Homo sapiens: one gene and its partner. The protein of the gene in region 1 purifies or fractionates together with the protein of each later gene. This does not show direct contact. Each region holds a gene or a part of one and is shown on either strand. Other genes may lie near its edges.

Region 1 (2,258 bases):
GGAGAATGGCATGAACCTGGAGGCGGAGCTTGCAGTGAGCTGAGATCGCACCACTGTATTCCAGCCTGGGTGACAGAGCCGGACTATGTCTCAAAAAAAAAAAAAAAAAAAAAAGAAAGAAAGAAAAAAAAAGAAGCTTCTGCCATGGTAGAGTGTAAACATGTTGAGTACCATGCTGGAGAAGTACAAAGTGCTGTGGGAGGATGTAACAGGGCCAACTCTGCTTCTCTGGAGAAGTGACAGTTGAGCTAAGAGCTGATGGCTGACCACCAGGAGTTAGTGAGACAGAGCGGGCATGGAGGGAGGCATGTTCCAGGCAGATGGAACAGAGGGAACAGCAAGTGCAAAGCGTCTGAGCTGGTGCAGAGTTTGTGATGTTCCAGGGACTGTGTGATGGCCAGGGTGGCTGTACAAACAGCCCACCAGACCAGACTGTGCAGGACCATGTGGGCTGCATCTAAGATTTTTGAAGTTCAAGTCACCAAAAAGTTCTAGTTAAGTGGTGGGCAAAATCACAGTGGTTTTATAAAAAGACTGACTGACAAGTGGAGTGAAAGCAGAGACAAATTAGAAGGTTTTCCTGGGGATCTAAGAGAAAGACAAAGGAAGGCTGGACTGAGTGGCAGCTCAGGGCCTGGGAAGAAGAGAATGGATGCAAAGCCATTGAGGAGGCAAATCAACAGAGCTTGTGATGAACTCCACGTGGTGAGATGGCACAGCAAGAAGTGGCAGTCACTGTCGGATTCTCCCCTCTGACCCACAGCTCCTGAACTGCCCTGAGTAGCTTAAGGCAGGGTGCTGAGGTGAAGCACCAAGCTGAGTCTTATCTCAGCAAATCTAAGTTAGGCCGGGCATGGTGGCTCACACCTGTAATCCCAGCACTTTGGGAGGCTGAGGTGGGTGGATCGCCTGAGGTGAGGAGTTCAAGACCAGCCTGGCCAACATGGTGAAACCCCATCTCTACTTAAAATACAAAAAATTAGCCTGGTATGGTGGCAGGTGCCTGTAATCCCAGCTACTCGGGAGGCCGAGACAGGAGAATCGCTTGAACCCAGGAGGCAGAGGTTGTAGTGAGCTGAGATCACACCATTGCACTCCAGCCTGGGCAACAAGAGTGAAAACTGTGTCAAAAAAAACAACAAAAAAAACAACAACAAAAAAAACCTAAGTTAGAGTCTACAAAATGTTTCCTTTGATTTTTTTCAGAATGCCATCATATCTGCGTCCCAGAGCTGAGCTCACCCATTTAGCAAGATTCATTCTGACAGCATGAGCCTGCAGTTACCTTGTAAGTTATACTGCCTGCTCACTGTCCTCACTGGAACCATCCTTGCTCCTGCCCAGTGGCCTATGAAAGAAATCTCTCAATAAACTCCCAGCCAGACTCTAAGCCAGTGAATTCTGAAGCCCTCTCACCATCTGTGACCACTTCATTGACTGCCATGACCCCGGCCACCTGGCACAACTGCCCAGCCCAGGATGGGACTGCTTCTGTGGGGAACTGGGTGGGGAAAGAAATGATGCACGTGGAGCTCTTTATTTGCTTCTGATATGTACAGGTATATACAGTTGGTGAGAGTCTATGGTACATTATTTCACAAAATTATCTTACATCTGTGCACACTCCTGGGCAAGAAGTGGCAGATTCTGCCCCTAATATCCCATAGATGGTGAAGGAAAAGGATGCTACCAGGAGCCACCCCCTTCCGAGGACATTCATGGGGGCCGCCTGCCCTCTTCCCAGACACTGGAGCCCTCCCACGGACAATCTGTGCCTCCCACCTGCTCTGAGCACTTGCTGACAGGAGTGGTGGCAGCAGCAGCAGCTGCTTCCAAAGTCTTTCTTCTAGAGTAGAAGACTTGTCGTGGGGGCCAAAAACAAACAAACAAACAAACAAACAAACAAAAAACAATGGCCCCCACTCACTGATAGCAGCAAACGGACACCTGACTCCTAGAGCCTGCCTGGAATCCTCCGCCCCGGGTTTGAGGGCAGTGGCTCACCCACCTTCCCCCAGCACAGGTGCAGCCTGGCCTCACGGGGCACTGGCATGCATCTTCTCCAGGCAACTTGTCCAGAACGTGACCAGCCGGTTGTCACGGTTGATGCAGAAGTCCGTGAAGTCCTTCAGCAGCCGATCAGCAAACTTTTCATCCCCTGTGGCGCTGGAGCGCCATGTTTTGGTGAGCATGGTGTTGTAGGCCCAGTTGTAGCCGACCCGCTCCTCGCAGAACATGTTCTGGTTGGTGGAGCTGGT
Region 2 (3,500 bases), on another chromosome or scaffold:
AGGAATCAAAAGTTTGAGCATGAAAAAAAAAAAAAGTTTGGCCACTACCTGGCTATTAGCACTTGATTTCTTTGAGCCTGTTTCTTCCCAGTAAAATGGAGTTGACAGTGCCTGCTTCACAAAGCCGTTTTGTGAATTAAATGAATCAGAAATCAGAAAGGAATAGCTTAAAAGCTGCAATTTAAAGAACAGGAAAAGATGCCTGCCTACCAATATGCCATGTCCTTTCTTCCCAGGGACCAAAGATCCCTAACCCCTTCCAAGCTTACCTCCTCCACGGGGATGAAGGCGCTGGGCCCTCGAGGGCCTCGCCGAGCCCGGCTCTCCCTCTGCTCCTGGGAGGAAACATATGAGGTTAGTCCGTAGTAGAAGGGAGAATAAAGAGGATTATTACCTATCCAGCCTCTTCCTCCTATCCAAGGGGCTACACTGAAGTGTTAAACCCACCTTTCTAGCATACTTTGGATGGTGGAGCCAGATGGGAGATATACACATGTTTGGAAGGGTAATCAAGAAAGAGGGCTCACTCCAGGCTGAGTTCTTCAGGAACTGGGTTGGGACCCAAGAATCCCAGCATTGCGGGATGGGAGGGTCCTGGAAAAGGAACTATATAGCCATCATGCTGCACATCTCCAGGAGGCCACCTTCTTAGTGGTCCCAGAGAACTTATACAAGAACACACCACAGTTTGCACCCTGAAGCCAGGTAACCAAGTACCCCAGATGCTTCAGAAGCAGCTTCAATTTCTCTCACATGTTCGTTCGTTCCTTCCTTCCTTCCTTTCTTCCTCCTCCTCCTCCTTCTTCCTTCCTTCCTTCCTTCTCCTTCCTTCTTTTGCTTCTTTTTTTTTTTGAGACGGAGTATCGCTCTTGTTGCCCAGGCTGGAGTGCAATGGTGCGATCTCAGCTCATTGCAACCTCTGCCTCCTGGGTTCAAGCGATTCTCCTGCCTCAGCCTCCCGAGTAGCTGGGATTACAGGCATGCACAACCACGCTCACCTAATTTTATATTTTTAGTAGAAACTGGGTTTCTCCATGTTGGCCAGGCTGGTCTCGAATCCCCAACCTCAGGTGATCCGCCCACCTCAGCCTCCCAAAGTGCTGGGATTACTGGAATGAGCCACCACGCCTGGCCTCTTCTTTAGTGGTGCAGTCATAGCTCACTATAGCCTCAAACTGCTGGGCTCAATGGATCCTCCTGCCTTGGCCTCCCAAAGCACTGGGATTACAGATGGGAGTCACCATGCCTGGCTGCTTATCTGTCCTCCCACCACCACCACCTCATTAACTACCACCCCCTCTTGTCTGGACCACTACTCACAACCTCGCCAGTTGTCCCCCGGCCTCCTTAGCCCTGGCCTCTCCTATCCATCCTCTACCCAGTAGCCACATTAACTTTCTGAATATAAATCCGATCAACTGGCTTAAAACCCTACCTCCCCCTCCCATGGGCTTCCAGATACAACTGGCCCAGTCCCAGTGGTCACTCCTTTTGCAAAGCTAAACCACAATAGTCTAGGAACCTTTTTCTGGCCCTCACCTATGACCCCAAAATTCCCAGGGCTTTTGCTTCTAAAAACACTGTCATCAAATTGTCTGTTTTGTTTCCCTGACACCAGATCACATTTAGTGGAGAGCAGCGCCAGGTCATTCATACTAGTCTGTGAATGAAGACAGAGAAAGCAGAAAGGCACGGAGGGAATCTGAGCAGGGTGTACAAGGCTGATGGGAGCAACTGTTTTGACCTGTTATATGCTGCAGCCTCTTTAGAAACCACTAATATCAGGTACTCACTACATCTGCTTCTCCTAGTCCTAGAGATGGGGTTCAGGAAGGATGCTCTACTTATTAATTTATTTTGTTAATCTGAGAGTGGAGGTGGCTCTCAGCACTGGTCTTGTTTACAGTTTACCCAAATCAGAGCCATGCTCTCACTGGACAGGGATAGGAGGCGCCCAGTTCTCCCCTTCCCATTAAGATCCAGACTTAGTACCAGCCCTCAGGTATCCGGGAACCAAAAACTATAATTGAACCTTCCTTCTCAGATGGCCAAAAGCCCACTGAGGAGGCAGAGCTCTGGGACTCCAGAAGACTACAAAGTCTCTGGAATAGGTACCAATTCTGCAACTAACTTGCTATGTGGCTCTGGGAAAGTTAAAGGCCTAAACTCTCTTTACCTACTAAACTGGTAGGTAAAGTAGCCCAGCTACCTTCAAAAAGGGAGTTGAGCTGACCGTGCAGGCCCCCTTCAGCCCACACTTCTGGGAACTTCCGGGCCAGGCTGGTCCAAGTTCAGCGTAGTAACCAACACAATCCCTGAGCACTCCCCTTTGGAGCTTCCCTCCCCCTCACCAAAGAAAAAGCCCAACAGCTCTGTATAGGAGATAAGGATTGCTGACTCCACAAACTGGGCCTCCACCTCAGGGGACCTGAGGACAGAATAGCAAGCCACAGCAGGGTAGGGTGGAGCAAAACTGGGGGAGGCAGAGACGGCCCATCAGGGGTGCTAGGGAAGGATAGGAATAGCCTTGGGAATCCCAACTCACTCCAAAATCTGACCCAGGAATTGTCAAAAGAAGGAGCTCTAAGTCATCGGTCTGGATCCATCAACACTTTCAGCAATAACAACAACAACAACAATATACAATGCAGTTAAAAGATAGGGGCCCTTGGCTGGCGCAGCAGCTCATCCCAGCACGTTGGGACACTGAGGCAAGAGGATCGCTTGAGGCCAGGAATTCGAGACCAGCCTGGGCAACACAGTGAGACCCCTGTCTCCACAAACAGTAAATTAGCTGGGCATGGTAGCACACAACCTGTAGTCCCAGCTACTCAGGAGGCTGAGGCAGGAGGACTGCCTGAGCCCAGGAGTTTGAGGTTACAGCAAGCTATGATCGCACCACGGCATTCCAGCCTGAGCAACAGGGCAAGACCCTGTCTCAAAAAAAAAAAAAAAAAAAAAGATGGGGCTCTTGACACAAATTGCATGAGCTCAAATGACAGCTCCACCACCTGCTATCCCTTAGCTTTATGAGCCTCAGTTTCTTTACCAAATAATGGGGATAGCAGTAACTACTTCCACTGGCCAGTGATGAGGATTTCATGAGATAACACTGTGTAGCTTACCTCAATACCTCCATAACAATAAGCACTTAATAAAAAGTCAGGTATCATTAACCTCCTTGCTGTATCAAACAAGGGCTTCTCAACCCAAGCGGTACATTAGAATCCTTTGAGAAGCTTTACAAAAATAACAATGCCAAGGTCCCACCTCCCGCAATTCTAATTTAGTTATCTGGGGTGGGGCCCCAGCATAACAGCCAGGGTGAGGACCATTGTTTACACCATTTATTGATCACTTTCTCAAGTATAAGGCACTATGCTAAGTGCTTTCTAGGTGGAAACAGAATTAATTTGTTCACTCAACAAATATTTTTGATGGCTATATTGCAAGCAGCAAGAATACAGCAGTGAAAAGACAAAGCCCTTGGCCTTCATATA

The links.
Region 2: the proteins of DEPDC5 (region 1) and SESN2 purify together in Homo sapiens (affinity purification with mass spectrometry, with the first as the bait; one large-scale study listed by BioGRID). This does not show direct contact.

The regions. Positions count from the first base shown.
Region 1 is NC_000022.11:31,906,276-31,908,533, reverse strand, and holds the end of DEPDC5 (GATOR1 complex protein DEPDC5), read right to left. Parts: coding exon 2,037-2,258; 3' UTR 501-2,036; downstream 1-500. UniProt on the Homo sapiens protein: As a component of the GATOR1 complex functions as an inhibitor of the amino acid-sensing branch of the mTORC1 pathway.
Region 2 is NC_000001.11:28,266,018-28,269,517, reverse strand, and holds part of SESN2 (sestrin-2), read right to left. Parts: intron 336-3,500; coding exon 270-335; intron 1-269. UniProt on the Homo sapiens protein: Functions as an intracellular leucine sensor that negatively regulates the mTORC1 signaling pathway through the GATOR complex. In absence of leucine, binds the GATOR subcomplex GATOR2 and prevents mTORC1 signaling.